Linked DNA regions of Homo sapiens: all the other regions are linked to region 4. The links come from fine-mapping of genetic effects on gene expression. A gene starts in region 4. Each other region holds a variant in brackets. All regions are shown on one strand. Distances are from middle to middle.

Region 1 (5,149 bases), 980 kb before region 4:
CCTTTTCAAGGCAAGATATTTTTAAAGACTCCTTAGCAAAAAAAAACATTTTAGGCCCAAATTCAAGTAATTTGGTAATAAACGTTGCGTGCTGGGTGAACTATTTGTCTCATATGAGCACATAGAAGATATGTGTTCTGTAAACCTTGTAAGAGTTTACCTTCAATTTCAATCCCCTCTGCAAATGCATTAGGATTGTAATCTCCTTAATAGCAGCGACTATGAATGTGAAGGCTCATATGCTTGGTAACAATCTGGCTGAATGGGAAAAGTCCAGTAACTGCAGGCAGAGAGGCCTGGGTTTAATGGGGGCTCCACCACTTTGCTGGCTTTCTGATCTTCAGAAAATTACTTACCCTAGAGGGCTATTGTGAGGATTAAATGAGCTAATGTGTGAAGTGCAAGCACTGATTCAGAGCAAGTGCTCAATAGTTGCCTTTACTACTGTTTATGTTCCAGGCCATATTGGGCCCAGAGTAAATTGGAGCAGGAGTCTAATGGGCTCCTTGGCCTGACAACCCTCAATTTGCTATGAAGAGCATAAATATGAAATAAACATGCATATTTGCATCTCTTGATTGGGTACTTTCGTCTCAGTCAGTCTATTCAAGGTCCTAGTGGGTTCATAAATCCATTTCATTTGAATCCAGAGTTCCCCCCACAACTTCTCATACACATTCTCACATACTGAACACTTCATTACAAACCTGGGCATGACGAATGTCTATTCCTTCACTTGTTGAGACGACCTCTCTCATCCAGCCCATCTACCTCTTCCTGGCTGCAATTACTGCCCTTTCCAACCTGGGCTTCAGAATGGATCATTCATCAGCAGGGTTCTTCCTCACAGCGGTAATTCCTTACCCTCCCCACTCTCAGTCCTGGTCCGGTGTTATCACCACCGTCTGCTTTCTTTTCTCTTATGCCTGGGCTGCTGGACATTGTTGTGAAAAGTCAAGATGATTGGTCCATTCATTCATTCATTCATTTAACCAATATTTACCAAGTTTCCTAAAGCTTTATTGGGCACTGGAGATATAGAGTCAGGACAGACCCAGAGGTCCCTACATCCGTCACATTTACAGACTAGTAGAGGGACAGCCACAGACGACACACAGATACCATTGCACAATGTGACCAGGGCTATGAAGGACGTGCTGGGATGAAGGAAGATGGGAAGAGGGAGGCCATTCCAACAGCAGTGGCCTGAGGAGGCGCTGCTCAGGAGAGGCGTTCACGCTGAAGCCTGAAGGATGAGAGGGAGCAGCATCTGCAAAAGCCCTGGGGAGGGAATGCACCTGACACATTTGAAGGCCCACAAAGGCCCATGTGGCTGAAGCAAGGACTTTTGGGGAACTGTGGTGTGGGACAGGGTGGGAGGGCAGAGCAGGGCTCTGCTTATGCCTGGCCTGAGAGGTATTGGTGAGAAGCTAGAATTTTATCCTCAGAAAAATGAGAAGCCATTGATGAGATTTAAGCAAAGAAGGGTCATGATAGGATTAGGATTTACCAAGAAAGGAGGCTCACTTATCTCCACCCCTCGACTGGCCCATTCTGGCCCCCAGTTCTCCTGGGCTTGCTATGGATTCCCTGATACGGGTGCTCAAAAGCTCTTCTTGCTGAATCTTCATGCACAAAGGGCCCACCTCTCAGCCCTCACCCTCACCCTCTACTTGACTGAAAAATTAAGGTCATCCTCTCTCTCTCTTCTCATGTTAAAATATGCATATCATAACATTTGCCATTTGCCATTTGAACCACTTTAAGTGTACATTTCAGTGTTCTTGAGGACATTTACATTGTGCATAACCACTACCACTGTCCATTTCCAGAACTTTTCGTCTTCTTTTTTTTTTTTGAGACAGAGTTTCACTCTAGTCACCCAGGCTGCAGTGCAATGGCCCGATCTCAGCTTACTGCAACCTCCACCTCCTGGGTTCAAGCAATTCTCCTGCCTCAGCCTCCCGAGTAGCTGGGACTACAGGCGCCCGCCACCACACTTGGCTAATTTTTGTATTTTTAGTAGAGATGAGGTTTCACCACGCTAGCCAGGCCGGTCTCGAACTCCTGACCTCAGGTGACCCACCCGCCTCGGCTTCCCAAAGTGCTGGGATTACAGGCATGAGTCACTGTGCCCGGCCACTTTTTCATCATTTCAAACTGAAATTCTGCACCCACGAAACAACATCCTTTTTCTTTTTTATTTTTATTGAGACAGGGTCTCGCTCTGTCACCCAGGCTTGAGTGCAGTGGCACAATCTTGGCTCACTGCAGCCTCTGCCTCCAGACTCACCCTCAATCTCCCCAGTAGCTGGGACTCACAGACGCACACCACAGCGCCTGGCTAATTTTTGTATAACTGGGTTTTGCCATGTCACCCAGGCTGGTCTCGAACTCCTGGACTCAGGTGATCTGCGCACCTCGGCCTCCCAGAGTGCTGGGATTACAGGCTGGGATTACCGCACCTGGCCAACAACATCTTTTTTCTTCTAACTTCCTCTGTAGCTTTACCAGCAGCTTCCATCTTGTCTCTGAAGGAAAAGTGGGCCTCTCCTGAGCCAAGGCTTTTTGTTCATTCCACCTTCTCCAACCGTCCTTGAACCATTTCCACGGACCCAGCCGGCTCACATCTTCAGTCTCTGCACTCTCTCCTTATCCCTCACTGACAGACAGGCCTATGTCTTTCCATCGCTAATGTCTATGAATAAATGAATGAACGTATTTTTAAAGGGCCAGGTGTGGTGGCTCACGCCTGTAATCCCAGCACTTTGAGAGGCCGAGGCAGGTGGATCGCTTGAGGCCAGGAGTTCAAGACCAGCCTGGCTAACATGGTGAAACCCCATCTCTACAAAAAATACAAAAAACCAAAGTGGGCATGATGGTGCATGCCTGTAATCTCAGCCACTCGGGAGGCTGAGGCAGGAAAATTGCTTGAGCCTGGGAGGTAGATGTTCCAGTGGGCCAAGATTGCACCACTGCACTCCAGCCTGGGTGACAGAGCTAGTTTCCATATAAAAAAAAAGAAAAAGAAAAAA[T/A]ATATATATATGTGTGTGTGTGTGTGTGTGTATACATATACATATACATATATATATATATATATTCAAAATCCTTCCCTCAGCTATACTACTCCCTTGGCCTAAGCTTAAATTTCTCCTTTGCTTCAATGCCTAGGTTCTGAGTTGTTCTGCACACGCTGCCTGTATGGCTGACACCAGCGATGTCCCCAGCCCCAGGGATCATGAGCCCTGGCCTTGCTGCAGCAGGTGACACTGCTACTGCTCCTCCTCCTCCTTGAAATTCTTTGATTCCTTGGCTTCTGTGATGCTGTATTTCAGTGGTCCCTCACACATGGGATGCGTCCTTTTCTGTCTCCTTCCCTCATCCCTCTCCTTCCCCTGGCCTTAAACACAGGAGCTCCTTAGGATCTGTTCTCGAATCCACTGCTCCTACCATCCGGCTCATTTTCTCTGCTGCCAGCTGGACATTCCCATGGGGACGGCCCGTCAGCATCTCAAATGCACTAGTTTCAAAACCAAACTCATCCTGTCCCCTGACCAGACCCAGCTTCACTTCCAGCTTGTGTATCCCAAAGGTCATAATTGCCACTGCCCCAGTTCACATCCTCATTAACACTTCCCTTTACTACGGCAAGAATCAAACTCCATTCTTACCCTGCGTGTATCCATCCTATCTGTTGCTTCTAGATGAATCCTCCTAAAACATGGGCTTGATCATAGCACTCACCCGTCCAATCACATCAGTGACACACTGTGACACACCTTGAGCCTGACATACAACAGCCCCGTGCCCTGGCTCCAGGCAATCTTTCAGCTTTATCTATGACAACGAACCAGGCCACAAACATCTCAAGCATGTCTATGGCATTCTGAGCTCTTGTCCCTTCCCTTGCTTCCCCATCTGACTTTTTTATCCCTTTCTTTCTTCAGGGTCCTTCCAAGTGATGCTATTTCTTCCTAAAATGTCATGCAATTCCCGAATGTGGTTTCTTCCTACAGTACTTTGTTGCAACTTCCTGTTGACACTAGTTCTGTCCTTAGTTGCTCTACCTGATGGTAGTTTCTTTCCCTTCCTTCCCTTCTCCAAACCACTTTGCTTGTCTGTAAAAGTATGACCGGAGGCCTTGATGACCTCTCCTGCATCTCCCCATCTACCATTTCTGAGTCTGTGGCTTTGGCAGCAGAAGTCCTGGTGTGTAGACACAATTTACTCTGTGCCCGATATGGCCTGGAATATAAACAGTAGTAAAACAATGGACCACAGTTGAAGGCTTGGGTTCCACAGGCTGCTCTACCTGAGCAAATCCCTTGACCACACTGGAAATCACATCTCCATCTTTGAAACTAATGATTTAGATTTGGAAGATCTCTTAAATCTTCTAAGTTACCACCTTTTAATTCCCATTTCTCCCAACACCCAAGACAATGCCTACTGTTTACAGAACAAGTTAGCTCTTTTCACCTATCATATTGTTTACTTCTTAAACCAACAAAGTGAATTCCAAGGCACGATAACCTTTATCAAGAAAGAAAAGTAAGCCAGGCATGGTGGCTCATGCCTATGATCCCAGCACTTTAGGAGGCCAAGGCAGGAGGATTGCTTGAGGCCGGGAGTTCAAGACCAGCCTGGCAACACAGCAAGACCCCCATCTCTACAAAAAATTTTCAAAATTATCCAGGTATGGTGGTGTGTACCTGTAGTCGTAGCTACATAGGAGGATTGCTTGAGCCCAGGAGGTCAAGACTGCAGTGAGCTATGATCGCAGCACTACACTCCAGCCTGGGTGACACAGTGAGACCCTGTCTGAAAAAATAAAAAAGCTTATTTTTTCCATTTCTCATAATTGGCCCCTAATTCTGATTTCAAATGTATAATCAAATGTGTGCTCTAAAATAAGTTATGTGTACACAAATGGGGATTTTTACCTGCAAACTAAGTTACTGTAGGCTTATTGGCACAAATATAGTCTATGTATCATAGAAATCATTGGGATTAAGTGTTGGGAGTAAATGTATCAGGGGACATCTCATTTTGCTTGACTTGAGGACTTACTACATAACTAGGGACTCTTACACGTATCAGCCCGTGACCCACGTAGATACCAGAGAGAAGCAGAGAAGCTTCCTGTCCC
Region 2 (5,149 bases), 24 kb before region 4:
CCCATCTCAAAGGCCAGAAGAACCAAACCCTAACTCAGAGATCTGCTTCAGAATTTAAATGAACTGCTGCCAACTCACTTGGAAAGAGCACTATCAGAGATGCAAATGTAAATAGTAAATATCATCAAGGAGCTCCTAGGACTTCGAAAAGAGGAGATGCATGGCATGGAAGGTGTGTGGCAGGTGTCAGGAAGGCCAACTTCCACAGTGACATTCTCTCCAAGTCACCTCAAATGGTAGTCCAAATGTATGCCGGCAGAATGGGCAGTCACTTCGGCAGCAAAACCTCCCTGAGGTCCCCAAGAATTCAATGGCCACAGTGAGTCTCTGTGGCTTAGTGGACAGTCACAGAAGGTCTGAGCAGAAGGGGGCCTTAGAAATCACTTTTATTTGACAAATGAGAAACTGGAGCCCTGAGGTGAAAAGAATTGATCCCACCCAACCTGCCAGGTCCCTGGTGCCTGACTACACTGCAAACCCCAATGTAACCCCTGCCCTGGCCGACCCTTCTTCCCTAAGCAGATTTTGCAGGAGTAGTTTCAGGACCATATTATTGTTCTGAACTTCTAAGAGGAAAGGGCCAAATACAAAGTGTTTGGTTAACTCAGTCAATGGAGCATAAATGAGATGTTTAAATCTTTGAGTTACAAAGCCTCATTAGGGTAAGAAGGCGCTGTAGGAGTGGACATAGGGAGGGTTTGTGATTCCCATTATATGATAAGAAATGCTATTAGGCTGGAATCAGTTCGATATGCCCAGGGAAGGCAGGCAGGAGTGGTAGTGAACATTTGTCTTCTTATTATATATGCAAAAACCCCAGCTAACATTGTACCTTATGCAGAACTTTTCATTCTCAGTCACTTTTACACATATATTACCCCATTTTCTTCCCCCAGCATCACAGTGGAGAAGGTATGGATAGGTGGTTTGGGGTGCCAATAAACCATAGACTATTTGAAGAAAAAAAATGTCTCACCCATAGTTTCATGGAGCCACATTTAGATTCTAGGTCTAATTTCAACAGATATCAGCACAGTGGAGCTACAGTTACAGTGGACAGATCATTTGTCAAGAATGGAAAAAGCCAGGATGCCAGGGCAGTTGTATTGGGGGGGATGGGAAGGAAGAAGTGAAAGTCTATTTTAAAAGAAATGTAGAGAAAAACTGCTAACAGAGCAGGCAGAGTTCAAGTTTAAGCCCTGGGCATGAGGGAAAGCCCAGTCAGCTGAGGCCATGCCAACACTTCAGGGTTACAAGCACCACTGGTCACCAACAGCACAGCCCTGGAAGGCCCATGTGTGGCCACGATCCCACAATGACACTAGGTGGAGATCAGGCAGATACCACCAACAGAGAGGCTGGGAATGGAATAAGATATTTCAGCCATAACTGCAGACGTGAAAAACAAGATTGGGGCGGCAAGTGCTAAATAAATCACAAAATAATTATTCATTTACCTCTCAGTCTGGAAGTAAACCTATGCTTTCACAAAATTAAGAGTGCAATCATGCAGTAAAAACAAGAAATCTTTGATTAGGTGCCTTCTATTGTGTAATACAAAATTGGATAATGTAGACCAAAAAACAATAAATGAATGACAAAGCAAAACTATATATTTTTATAAAAGACACTAAGATTTAATTCCCCTATACTTACACCAGTAATTGTTGAAGAAAAGGTAAATTAAAGGACTCAGGATATGAAAACAAACTTGATCCCCACCACCACTGCCAATTAATTACATGCACATGAGAAATTCACTAAGCAGCTAATCATTTATATTCTGGTGTAGTATTTCCGCACAACTATTGTATTAGATATTTAAATTTGCAATTTCAAATGGACTCATTGTCACAGGCCTCTTAGTCCATTTTACACACAAAATCAATACACTATTCCTAATAAATGAGATTACTTTTCCAAAACTCCCAGTGGGAGCTCAACAGGACTTCTGTTTGGGAGGCTGCTTCAAACTTCTCCAAAGAAAATTACTTTTCTGATGTTCACCTCTAAGAACCAACAGAAGGCACCTGAGAGAATTCAAATGAAGAAGCAACCACCTCGGGGGAAGGGAGGGCTCAAACTGTTAGGTAATTTAGACACATGAATGTCCCAGTTTAAATGCCACTCTATAGCAAAGCATTTCTGGATCCACCTGAGACCTCTGTTCCTCCACTAGAGAGCTAAGACACGTTGTTGCATTTTCTTCTAAAAGGTAGAAGGGGCCGGGCGCAGTGGCTCACGCCTGTAATCCCAGCACTTTGGGAGGCCGAGGCGGGGCGGGCGGGCAGATCACCTAGGGTCAGGAGTTCAAGACCAGCCTGGCCGACATGGTGAAACCCCGTCTCTACTAAAAATACAAAAATTAGCCAGGCATTGTGGCGTACGCCTGTAGTCCTGGCTACTCAGGCGGCTGAGGCAGAAGAATCGGTTGAACCCAGGAGGCAGAGTTTGCAGTGAGCCAAGATCGTGCCACTGCACTCCAGCCTGGGTGACAGAGCGAGACTTTGTCTCAAAAAAAAAAAAAAAAAAAGTAGAAGGTTCCTGGGGTTGTGCGCACAGCTCCTCCCAGCCTACTGCCCCATTCTGAATGTCCAGGGCTGTGTATTCCTCACCTTTGTATTCCAAACCACAGACCCAACTCTAGAAAAGAGCCGAGGAAGGGTTACAGTGTCTGGCATTAAAAAAAAGCACTGGGTAAATAATTTCTCTCCCCACTCACTTAAACTTTAGCCTGTGGTCCCAACTTGACTTGTATCCTAAATCTGAACAAATACCCTTGGCAAAGCCAAATTTTTCAACTCTTGCTGCCCCAATGGATAAATCCTTTAGAGAGATCTTGCTAGGTCTTCCCTTCATGCAATAAACACTCTACTCTGTAAAAGCCACTGACCGCCCTGCAGGACATGGAGAAACACCTGATAACCCGCCCTAGACAATGGCCTGCCCTCGTCATGTGAGAAAACCCCACGTGTCTGGGTTGCATAATGGTTAAGAGAGGTTTCGAAATTTCC[T/C]GGACTTGGTCTGGAACCCTGGTTCTGCCAATGTCCAGAAATGCAGCCTTGGACAAACTGCTTCATCACTGAGCCTCACTTTCCTCATCTACAGATGAGGATATTGGCACCAACTCTCAAGGTTTGTTGTATCAGATGAAAGAAAAAATGTAAACAGCTTACTGCTATTCCCAGTGCAGTAGACTATCTAATAAGTGCAGAGAGTTTTTTTTCTTATAACCCTAAACTCACAGTGGATGGGGGAGAAGAAGCTCAATTTGTAAAAATGCAAGTAAGCATGAACATAAAAACTGTAATTTTAATGAAAAAAAAAAGTATGTAACAGGAAGCAGATTTTCCTTATCTATAGCAAATCATATCACAAAGCTACTGTATTCAAAACAGTGTGCTGCTTCTTTACAAAGGGATAAAGGTATCAATGGAGCAGAGTAGAAAGTTCAGAGACAGAACAACACAGACACACATGCACACAGCACATACATGCATGTATGCATGTACACACACACACACACACACACACACATACACACACTCTCTCTGTGTCTCTCTGAGAAAAGGGCATTTCAAGTGCATGCGTGGGGAAAGCGGAACCATCCAATAAATGGCACTAGTTTAACTGGCTATTCGTTTAGGAAAAATAAAGTCACACCTTTAAAACACACACACACACACACACACACACACACACACACACACCCTTCCACTGAGGTTAAAGATCAAAATAATAAAATTATGAAGCCAGGAGAAAAAATATATAGAATATTGTTATGGTTTGCAGATTAGGAAAGGCCTTCCCAAAGCAAGCCACCAAACTCAAACTGTAAAAGCTGTAATTTCGGCTGTGTGCAGTGGCTCACACCTGTAATCCCAGCACTTTGGGAGGCCGAGGTGGGTGGATCACCTGAGGTCAGGAGTTCGAGACCAGCCTGACCAACATGGTGAAACCCCATCTCTACTAACAATACAAAAAATTAGCCGGGCATGGTGGCAGGTACCTGTAATCCCAGCTACTCGGGAGGCTGAGGCAGGAGAATCGGTTGAACTCGGGAGGCAGAGGTTGCAGTGAGCCAAGATCAGGCCATTGCACTCCAGCCTGGGCAACAAGAGCGAAACTCTGTCTCAAAAAAAGCACTGTAATGGCCGGGTGTGGTGGCTCACACCTGTAATCCCAGCACTTTGGGAGGCCGAGGCAGGCAGATCACGACGTGAGGAGTTCGAGACCAGCCTGGCCAACATGGCAAAACCCTGTCTCTACTAAAAATACAAAAATTAGCTGGGTGTGGTGGTGGGCGCCTGTAATCCCAGTTACTTGGGAGGCTGAGGCAGGAGAATCGGTTGAACCCAGGAGGCAGAGGTTGCAGTGAGCCGAGATCGTGCCATTGCACTCCAACCTGGGCGACAAGAGCAAGACTTGGTCTCAAAAAAAAAGCACTGTAATGTCACATGTAGTCATCTGCCAAACAATGATGCTTTCAGTCGACAGCAGACTGTATATATTCCAGTGGTCCCATAAGATTATAAGACTGTATTTTTACTATACTGTTGCTATGTTTGGATACATACCACTGTGTTTAAGTTGCCTACAGTATTCAGCCCAGTAACATACAGTACAGGTTTGTAGCCTAGGAGCAAGAGGCTAGACCATAGAACCTTGGGGTATAGTAGGCTATACCATGAGGTTTGTGTAAGTACTCTCTATGATGTCTGCAAAATGATGAAATTTCCTAATGACACATTTCTCAGACTATATCCCCATCGTTAAGTGACACATGACATTATAAAAACTAAATAAACATATGTAGAAAGAAATACATCATAGAAAAATCAAAAGAAACATAATAGGCTTGGGCAAAACAATACAGGGATACCACATTTCATTGTGCTCCACGGATACTGCAGTGTTTTACAAACTGAAGGTTTGTGACAACCCTGCATCAAGCTAGTCTATCAGCACCATTTTTCCAACAGTGCTTACTACATATCTCTGTCAAATTTTGGTAATTCTCGTAATATTTCAAACTTTTTCATTACTATTATGTCTGTTGTGGTGATCCGTGATCAGTGATCTTTGATGTCACTATTGCAATTACTAATGTCACTAAATAATGTTTAGTAACAATATATAATGGCAAACT
Region 3 (5,149 bases), 36 kb after region 4:
CTTGAGTTTGATAGAATTTGGCTACTTTCTTGGAGCAATCAAAATTTATCAGCTCACTTCTCTTCAGCAAACAGGTGGGAATGAGATCATGGAAAGATAAACAACTCTAGAACACCAGATATGAAGTGTAGAAAGAAAAACTTTTAGAGTCGTTGATTTGCAGGCCAGGGGCCTTCCTGCAAGCAACCTTTGGGTTTATCATTGGGTTTATTGTTAATTGGTGAACTATTACACCCCCACAGTGGACCCATGATTATAAGACAGATCCCCACTTGCAGGAATTCATCAAATAAATGGCCTACTCTGCCTTCTGTTAATTTAATCTCCAATCCACAATGCTTCATGTTAGTACTCCTCAAGTAGAAAATGGATGTCATCCATGCTTATGTAATTTCTAGTTGAGCTCTTTAGCTCCAGCCATGCTTATTTGTGAGTCATAATTATGTCTGTGTAAAACACTGCTGCAAGCCCTGTGTGCCTGTGTGGGTGTTTTATGCATGGGTGTAGTCTACAGCCTGGGAAGCTAAACCTGTTGGTGAAGGGATTTTCATTTACCTAAGAGAAAGATCTTAACACTTAATAGAGAGCAGATTAATTTCAGCTGGTTATTTAGATAGAAAATATGGTTTGTTTGTGAGAGTGTAACCGGATGGAGCCACTGTCCTCCTTTCTCCCCAGCAACTCTCGGGGGTTAGGAGTGGGGAGGAGGATCAAAGAACTCATAACTTCTCCCAGGCTGGGCAGTCTGTGGTTAGTTTTTCTGCCTACCTGGTAAAGCCATGGGGTCCTCCACCTCTGGAGCAAGATTAGACCTCTCTTTGAGTAAAGGAGAGCCAAGGAAGTATAATGGATAGGCCTCTGGACCCAGAGCCTGCTGGGACCAGAGTTGTGTGCTCATGGGCAAGTTTCCTTATCTCTAAAATGGAGCAATAATCATATCTATCTAAAGGTTGCTGTGAGGATTAGATGAGTTCATTCATGAAAAGAGCTTACTGCCCTACATGTTGTGGTGCTCAAATAGCTGTCTTCTGAAGGGTTTATGGAACGGTCCTAAAATGGGAGCTGACTCGCTCACTCCCTTGAATCATACAAAGGGATAAGAGGAAGCCTCCTGTGGATATTCTCCTACCCTCCCTCCTCTTCTCCTCAATGTCCCCTCTCTGTAGTAGGCCTCTTCTGAAAGCCCTCATCACCTGGTTGCTCTGCCTTGTGCTTGAGACTCTGGTAAGGGTGATTCCTTCTTTGCCATTTTTTTTTTTTTTTGTGACAGGATCTCGCTCTGTCACCCAGGCTGGAGTGCAATGGCGTAATCATGGCTCACTGCAGTTTCAACCTGCTGGGCTCAAGCGATCCTCCCACCTCAGCCTGCCGAGTGGCTGGGTCTACTCAGGGGAAAAAATTTAGCTACCACACCAGGATAATTTTTTTATTTTTTTTGTAGAGATGAGGTCTCACTCACTATGTTGCCCAGGCTGGTCTCGAACTCCTGGGCTAAAGCAATCCTCCTGCCTGGATCTCCCAAAGTGCTGGGATTACAGGTGTGAGCCACTGCACCCAGCCCCACTTCTTTTCCTTGAGTTGAATTCTCAGGCCGGCTGTAGTGTGTGTTTGTCTTCTGTGAGGCTGTGTCTCTTCCACCCCCACTCCACCCCCATCCCCGCAGGCACCACTGCCTCCTTGCCAGGGCTGATTCTTTTCATCTTGCTCAAGTTCGGGCAGCTCTGTCAAACCCCCTGTTTGCTCTGATGGAGTGTGGGTGACTTCGTGACTGCCTTCCCACCTTATCTGAGACCAGTTTGTTTTCCCCAAAGTGCTATAATTTGCGGCTGGGTGTTTCCTGTTTTTTTGCACCCTCTGGGCATGGCAGGGGGAGCTCAGCAGAGACTATGTTTCTATGTTTCTTCATTAGAAAACCTGAGCTCCGGGCTTATTTCTATCTCAGTTCATCCCTCTGGTGTACCCATTTCCACAGGCTTTGGCTCCCTTCTCCAATTAAGAGTACAGCCCTGGAGTCTTCTCATTCATGTTA[C/T]TCCAGTTGACTGTTTCACCCAATTTCTCCCCAGCAGCCATTTTCATTCACTGCAGTCAGAAGACAGAAAAGATAAGGATAAAGCATACCGATGGGCTCTTTGCAGATTTAGAATACTGATGAGAATGCTTGGGATTCTATGGCCCATGAGTGAAAGAGTTGGGATTGGTAGCCCTGCCAAGATGCTGTCCTGCTTAGCTCCAGAATCTTATTTTCTTCCTGTACCACCTTTTTGGAGGCTTATGGTATTAGCATGTGCTCCTTTCCTCGTCTGATTGCTGCTGGTGGATTTTGAGGAGTTTTTTTTTTTTTACTTTTTCTGTTACTTCCTTAGGAATTAGCTATGAAGCAACACCATTCCTCCATATTAATCCAAAGGTTACATTTTTTTTTCTTTTAATATGGATGAGACCCAACTCCTTATGAAATAAAAACCCTGACCTTATTAAGCTATAATTCTTTCCTGGGCTGGCTTTTTCTTTACGAGGCTCTGCACATAAACAGCCATACTTCTCCAGCCACCCAATCAAATGGCAACATATTATACCTCCAGCCTTCAAATATCTCCTCAATAACCGAAGTAATGGTAGATCAGGGAATCGGATCAATGTGCCACACTAACTAATTTGCTGTAGCCAGCCACAGAATCAGGTGTCCCTGGAGAAAAAATGATGTAGTACAGTGTTTATCAGTATAGACTTTGGAGCCTGACTGCTTGAGTTCAGTTTCTGTTTTCACCACATACTAGCTAGCTGTGCAAATTTTAACAAATTGCTGTTTCCTGTACCTCTATGTCCTTATATGTAAAACGGGATGATGAGAATTAATTTTACCCACCTCTTAGGGTCCCTATGAAACTTAAATGAGTTATTTTGTATGATATGTTTAGAGTAGTGCCTAGCTCATTGTACCTATTTAATACATAGTAGCTATTATCTTCCTTTCTTCTTCCATTGCTGTTTATTTGTTTAGTGTCTAATCTGGCTATTTCTGGAAAATCCTGGTCTTCACCGACTAGGAGAAGCAAATGTGCTTTTACTTAAAAAGAGTGATCTAGAAATACAGCAGCTTTGCTGGGTATGGTGGCGCATGTAATCCCAGCGCTTTGGAAGGGTGAGGCTGAAGGATCACTTGAGCCCAGGAGTTCAATGTTGCAATGAGTTAGGATCATGCTACTGAACTCCAGCCTGGGCAATAGAGTGAGACCCTCTCTCAAAGAAGAAGGAAGAAGAAGAAGAAGGAGGAGGAAGAAGGGGAGGAGAAGAAAAGACATATAACTGCTCTGCTGATAGGAAGTAGAAATCAGGACAAGAAGCAGAAGAGATGAAATAAGCAGGAATTATTGAAACTGGGTGATAGGTACATGGGTGTTCAATATATTATTGTCTAATTTTTGTGAATATTTATTTTCTATAATAAAACTGTAAAAAGAAAAAAAGAGATAAACTCTAAAATCTGTCAGTGTGGATCAAGAGCAGTGAGATGGGAACACTCATATATCCTAGGTGGGAGGCCAAATTGCTATGAGCTGCTTAGACAACAATTTGACAGCATATATCAAGAACCCTAAAAATGTTTGTTCCAGTTACTACAGCTGTGTAAAAAATTACCCGGAAACCTTGGCTTTAAACAACCATTTTATTGTGTTCGCAGATTCTGTGGATCAGATTTGGATAGCCTACAGTGGGGATGGTTTGTCTCTGTAATGTGTAGTACCTTGGCTGGGGACTTGAAGGCTTGGGGTGACTCAGAAGCTGTACCTAGAACCCACTGAAGGTTTGTTCACTCACAAGTTTGGCACCTGGACTGGTGTGATACAAAAACTAGGTATGTGGAATGATTCATGTGGCCTTCAAGTGGCTTGGCTCCTCACAGCATGGTGGCCTTAGGGTAGCCCGATTTTTCACATGGTGGCTCAGGGCTCCAAGCATGAGTCCTCCAGCCATCACACTGAATGGCAGAGTACTCTCTTGGTTGATGTTGTCATAAGTCTACCCAGATTCAAAGGGAGGGAAAATAGACCCTGGTTCTCCATGAGAGGAGTGGCAAAGAATTTTAGGGTCATGTTTCAAAACTGCTACAATGTTTGTGTCTTTTGACCCGATGATTTCACTTCTAGGGATTGACCTCAATGAAATTATTTGAAATGTAGACAAAGTTTTATGCATATATTTCAATATAATCTATAATAATGAAATATTAGAAATAAACTTAATGACTAACAATAAGAAAATGAATAAATGTCAGCAAATCTCTAAGATGTTGCAAAGCCATTAAAATGGAGTTCGATTTTTTTTAACACATAGGAACATGTTCATGTTTTTCCTTTCCGAGAGTTGCAAACTGTCATCCTTGGGGTCCCACCATCTCTCTCATTTTTCTCTTCTCATGCCTGGTGTGTATTTACCAGTGGGTTGATGAGGTTGGTTCTAAATAAGCATTTGTGCCTAGTTTCATCAAAGGTCATCACTGGGGCCGGGCACGGTGGCTCACATCCCAGCAGTTTGGGAGGCCGAGGTGGGTGGATCACCTGAGGTCAGGAGTTCAAGACCAGCTTGGCCAACATGGTGAAACCCCATCGCTACTAAAAGTACAAACATTAGCTGGGTGTGGTGGCGGGCACCTGTAATCTCAGCTACTCGGGTGGCTGAGGCAGGAGAATCGCTTGAACCCGGGAGGCAGAGTTTGCAGTGAGCCAAGATCTCGCCATTGCACTCCAGCCTGGGCAACAAGAGTGAAACTCCATCTCAAAAAAAAAAAAAAAAGTTCATCACTGGAACCTGTTTGCCCAAAATCTGTAGCTTCCACAGCGCTCAACAAGCTGCTATGGTTTTCGTCCCAGCCCCCACCTGACAGACGGCTGTATACCTTACTTCCAGTGGATACACAACTTGTCCTTGTCTCAGTTGCCCTCTGATGACCTATTCCATTGTTCTCCTCCCCAAGGCTAAGTTCTCTTAGGATCCGTCAACAAATTCAACAGATGATAATGCCTTAGACACATCATATAGCAGCTGCAGATGTCGTTTTCTTATAATCTATATAATCTACTACTTTTTGAAAAGGACCTCAAACATTTCACCAGTCAATATATTCAGTAGGCAACATCTGAAATAAACT
Region 4 (5,149 bases):
GAGAAAAGGAGAAAGGGGAGACCTCCGGGCCACACTTCTTTCTAGTACCAACAAAAAGAGAAGCCGCATACTGACCTAAATCATCTCTCAAAGGCGCTTTATAAATTACAGGGACAAAGGGAGGGGGTGGCGGGTGGCCTGGGAATCCTACAGACACCCTACCCTCTGACCCACCCCCCTCCCCCTCCAGCACAAGGGAAGGAAGACAGAAAACAGAGCTCAACTCGGCCATTGGCGAGAAGCCCCCTCCGGTTTTCTATCGCCCATCCATCCGCCCCCTAGAAAAAAAATCCACGTAAACACCATACCCACCCCCTGGGGCAGACACTCCCGCCCCGAGGTTCCTAGAACCGGAGGCCGGGGCATTTACTTAGTTAGATTTTTCTTGCTTACTCATTTCCCTCGAGCACCCAACCCCCCGTTCCCACTCCAAAACCCCGCTCAACCGCCTACCCTCACCGCTTCAGCCCCCAACAGAATCCGGTGCCCCCGCGGCGTCGGCGGCCCCCGAGCCGTCCCGGTCACTAACCTGCTGCTGTAAGGGCATTTCCGAAACCAGCCTGGCTCCGGGGGGAGGTGGGGGGCCGGCTGGAGAGGGGGCCCGGAGGGCCGAACAGACCGGCGGCGCAGGGCGAGGGCGGGCGCCGGTGGGGGGGTGGGGAGAGGAGAGGGAGGGTGGCGGTGCCGGGGGCGGGTGCGAGGGCGCCGGGACCGTCCCAGGCCAGGGAGCCGGCGAGCAGGAGGAAGTGGGTGCCCCCCTCTCCCCCTCCAGCGCCCCCTCCCGCCGCCGCCTCCTCCCCAGTCACAGGCGCGTCCTGCGCGCACGTGTGCGAAACGTCACCGGCGGGTCCCGGAGAGAGGGACAGACCCAGGCGGCGGGACGGGAACCCAGCTGCCCCCGCCCTCCGTCGCCGGGGGGCGGAGAGGGGGACAGGGCGGGGAAGGAAGGGGCAAGGGGAGAGGCGGGTCAAGGGCAGGCCCGGGGCCCGGCGAGGAAGGCCTGGGCGCTTGGGCCACGCGGGCGCCGCCGCTGCCACTGCCAGGATGCGCCCAGGCCAGAGCGCCAGCCCGCGAGCCCCTCACCCCAGACAGCCCACGCCCCAGTCCGCACCCGGCTTCCAGCCCCACCTCCCCCACGCCCGACTCCCCTCCACCTCCCCCAGCCCCTTTGTTGCCGGGAGTTACAGATCCTAAAATGTGTCAAGCGCAGCCCCGCCGATCCCCTGCGCTCCGAGCACGCCGCAGGGACCCCCGGCCGCCAACGAGCCTCCAAGGCCGACTGGGGGCTAGCACCCCAACAGTCCCCCGGTTTCAACCCCTCAGAGCCCCCCACACCCCAGTTCACTACTCCCTCCCCCACCCCCTTCTCCATCCGGGGCGTGACCCCTTCCTACGCCCGAGAAAGAGGAAGCTTCGAGTTGGAGGGGAAGGGAGAGTGGGGGTAGGGAAAAGTGCAGGAAAAGAAGGGGGGGCCGCGAAAAGTTTTGGAGTGTTTGATGTGGTTCGCGCCAAGGCAATCCCCGCCGCCCCGCGCGCCTGGCCGAGCCCCCCGACCCTCCTGGCGCCGGGAAGAGCACTCAGGTCTAACAATGAACCCTCGTTGGAGGGGCAGCCCCCGAGGCCCACGATGCTCGGCCCAGTGCTCTCCCCGAGCGGCCCGCAGCGCGCCCACGACCCCGCGCGGTGCGAGCCCACCTCCCGCCGGGGCTGGGGACGGTGGGGAGGGAGGGTATTACCGGAGGGCCGCCGCCGCCGCCGCTGCCGCCGCGTCCCAGCGCTGGTGGCTGCTGCAGCAGCCCGGCTCTGCTGGAGGGTCCGTGCGGCGTGGTGTAGAGGAGGCTGCCGGCGGTCTGCTCCGCGCCGGGGGCACTGGGGAGGAGGGGGCCGGCGGCTACGGCGCCGCTTTGGAGGGAGGAGGAACAGGAGGTGGTGGAAGTGTTCGTGGTGAGGATCTGGATGTACGCGCCCGGGGCGGCGGCAGCGGCGGCGGCGGCGGCGAAGCCGGGGCTGGCTAGCAGTGCCCTTTTGTCCATGGAGGCTGCAGCGGCGGCGGCGACGACAGCCGCCCCCTCCCCACCCCCGGCGGTCACCAGGTACTGCTCCAGAGCGGGCTGGATTCCCTTTCTCATCTCTCGCTCCTGCTCTTTTTAGTGTTATGGTATATTAATGTATTGTTTTCAATTTCTTTATTATTTGCAGTCGGAGTTTCCAAGTCTCTCCTCCTTCTCTCCTCCCCGCCCGGCGCTTCCGAGCCCCCTCTCTCTCTTTTCTTTTTATTTTTCCGCACCGCACAGGCCCCGGGGGCCAAAAATAATCGGGGCTCTGGAGAGAGGAGGGTCCCGGCCGCACGGATATCGGGCCCCAAGCGGGGATGGAGGCGTCGGGGGCGGCCGATGCAACGGATTGCGAGGCGGCGGCGGCAGCCCGGGTGCTGCGGCCGGCAGCTGAAAAATGGCTCCAGGAAGCTGCTGCTGACAATGAATGAAGGGATACGGTTTACGCGCCAAGGTCCTCCCGCGAAACTCGGATTTCCCGCCGGCTTTTCAAACCATATTTGCATATCCCCGCCCCTCAACCCGCCGAGGACCGTTCCCACAGCCCATTGGGCCGCTACCTCCTTACTTCAGTCCCAATCATGGAGCAGGGCCGCGACTTGCTGGTTTCCATTGGCTGCCGTGCATCATGGTTACCGGGGCGACAGGGACCCTATTTGCATAGGCCTCCTTGATTGGCTGGCAGAAGAGCAGTTTTTAGGGGGTGGGGCAAAGAATTTCCTTCTCTCCCACGGAAGACCACGCCTGGCCTAGGCTCCGCCCCTGTCCCCGCCCGCCCGCCGGGCCGGCGCTACTGACCTGGGCAGGGACTCCGCGCCCCGCAGACTCAGTGTAGATCTAGTCTAGAGCCCAAGTTTCGCTTTTGGAAATTGTCAAGGTGACTAAGGGAACACTCTTTCCTTTGACCAGTCAGTGCAATAAACGAACAGCGCAGGAGATTTTTCCAGATACGTGCCAAAGGCAAGTTGGACCATGCGGACGATGTCTGGCAGGTGCAAAAGGAGCCCTTTAAATCGTGGGCTTCTCCCTTCCTGAAATCCAACCAATGACGCGGCGAGAGCTGATCCCGAGGCCGGGGCTGATAGACAGAAGCATGTGGGCAGACAGAATCGTGGGGGCAGAAGGTTCAGCAGACGCGATTGCGGGCACCAGTTAACATTCCAGATCATTCCCGGTACCTTCATTATTAGCCTGGATAGGGGTAAAGTACAAATTAACTCTTTTGTCTTACAACGGATATTGGTTTGAATCCAGCAGACATTCCCTCTGGCCCAGAAACACCCAGGGCAGTTAATCAGGGCTAACCTAGAACTGATCTACGGGTTTCTAATCCGCCAAGCAGTAATCCGAAAAAGTACACGCTTCCCACGATGACGTCGTGCCCCCAACGAACGCAGGCACGCCCAGGCATCAGCACTTTATATCTTCAGTTTTGTAGGAAGTTCTCTGACTGGAAGCAAACACAACGACTCAAACCTATCCCAAAGTATTTTTAAAATAGTGTCTTTTTTTAAAAAGTAAACTAGAAATTGTCATCAGAAAAATATAAAATGATGTGTCAAACTGACTCCTGAATTTGTTCAAGTATTCATGGGTCTTAAAATTAAAGCTTGCTCCTGAGATTGAGCAGGAAAAGAGACCCCTGCAGGAATGTGGGGGAAGTTATGTATGTAGAGACTAGATCATAATTTATAGTTACGTGCAAAACAGCTGCAGAATTGGTGCTCATAGGTGATGAGGATTGCAACACCTTGAGCCCTTTCACAAGATTTTTATTACTATTATTAATTTCCCAAAACTCTTACTCAGAGTGCTATGAAACACCTGACAAGATGTGTCAGATCAGGCTAGGACTCCTTAATATTTTAGCCTTGTTACCTTTTCTGAAACAGATGAGTTAAAAGTTCCATTAAACCTTGCACCAGGCTCAGGAATATTTTAGTCTTGCATTCAGGCTAGTTGAGGATCCATAGCCCTAAACATTTGTCGACACTGGTAGAGGTGACACTATCTTTATTTTTTGAGACAGAGTCTTGCTGTTGTTGCCCAGGCTGGAGTGCCATGGCACGATCTCAGCTCACTGCAACCTCTGCCTCCTGGGTTCAAGCAATTCTTCTGCCTCAGCTTCCTGAGTAGCTGGGACTACAGGTACGTGCCACCACGCCCAGCTAATTTTTGTATTTTTAGTAGAGACAGGGTTTCATCATGTTGGCCAGGCTGGTCTTGAACTCCTGACCCTAGGAGATCCGCCTCCCTTGGCCTCCCAAAGTGCTGGGATTACAGGCATGAGCCACCGCGCCTGGCCAGAAGTGACACTATCTTTAGGGCAGATTAAGTGGTACTCAAAGGGCATGAGCTAGAAGTGTAATATACCAGCAGCTTCCCTGCTCTTGTTCCATCAATGTTGCTTTCCTCTATGGATATACCTGTGGAAGAAACTAGTACTGTCACTACTTGGATATTACCATCTGCAGAGCATCACTGGCAGCTTGCATTTGGTGGCAGTAGTGGGGGTTGTGAGGGAGGAGTGGTGCAACATACACAGTAATTATAGACCTGCGCCTTATGATTAGAGACCAGCCTGGGACTGGGGCTGTGCATAGAATCCTGGCTTGAGCTCCCCACAAGTGATTGCAATAAGATAAATACGACACAGCCACAAGAAAGCAAGTGTTCACACTCTAGACCCACACCTGCAATTCTGCTTTAGAAAGCTTTCAGATATTTATCATTCTACCTTACCCAAGTTTTTTTAATATAGGGTATTTGGTAGAGAAACAGATGTTTTGACACTTTATGTCTAGTGAACTCTAGGATGAGTAGGTGGAGAGAAGAGTTCAAAGAGAGAAGATAGTGGAAGATAAGATGCTGAAATCCAAGGTAGGCTATTAATTTGTGGAAGAGGTAGCATGTTTTAGCAGAAAGAATGAGCTTTGGAGTCAGAGTGATCTGGGTTTAAATTCTGGCTCTGCCATTTACTAGCTATATAGCTAGGGGTGGTGGCTCACGCCTGTAATCCCAGCACTTTGGGAGGCCAAGGAGGGCAGATCACCTGAGGCCAGGAGTTTGAGACCAGCCTGGCAAACATGGTGTAA

Which allele goes with the higher level. Alleles are on the strand shown, and positions count from the first base shown. SD is a standard deviation of normalised expression in the study named. Not every link is listed here.
For the expression in lymphoblastoid cells of the gene that starts at base 2,483 in region 4, T is the low allele of the variant in region 1 and A is the other (large effect, 1.2 SD a copy in TwinsUK).

Evidence for each region.
Region 1: its variant is fine-mapped to the expression of E2F3 in lymphoblastoid cells (TwinsUK, PIP 0.95).
Region 2: its variant is fine-mapped to the expression of E2F3 in whole blood (TOPMed, PIP above 0.99).
Region 3: its variant is fine-mapped to the expression of E2F3 in whole blood (TOPMed, PIP above 0.99).

Annotation. Positions count from the first base shown.
Region 1 is chr6:21,376,230-21,381,378 of GRCh38, reverse strand. No RefSeq gene overlaps it. Among named protein-coding and RNA genes, the nearest start is that of LINC00581, 130 kb to the left of the region's middle. The variant T/A (reference allele first, on the strand shown) is at 3,036.
Region 2 is chr6:20,422,772-20,427,920 of GRCh38, reverse strand. The region is part of intron 1 of E2F3 (E2F transcription factor 3); the gene reads right to left. Among named protein-coding and RNA genes, the nearest start is that of E2F3-IT1, 12 kb to the left of the region's middle. RefSeq lists an enhancer at 43-112. The variant T/C (reference allele first, on the strand shown) is at 3,015.
Region 3 is chr6:20,363,230-20,368,378 of GRCh38, reverse strand. No RefSeq gene overlaps it. Among named protein-coding and RNA genes, the nearest start is that of E2F3, 36 kb to the left of the region's middle. The variant C/T (reference allele first, on the strand shown) is at 2,030.
Region 4 is chr6:20,399,213-20,404,361 of GRCh38, reverse strand. E2F3 (E2F transcription factor 3) reads right to left here and starts at 2,483. Exons shown (of 7, transcript NM_001949.5): 1 at 1,737-2,483. The coding sequence starts at 2,129. LOC124901482 reads left to right here and starts at 1,590. Exons shown (of 3, transcript XM_047419652.1): 1 at 1,590-1,937; 2 at 1,982-2,093; 3 at 2,200-3,621. The coding sequence starts at 1,590. The coding sequence ends at 2,807. RefSeq lists silencers at 529-1,148, 1,349-1,818, 2,669-2,908 and an enhancer at 2,046-2,570.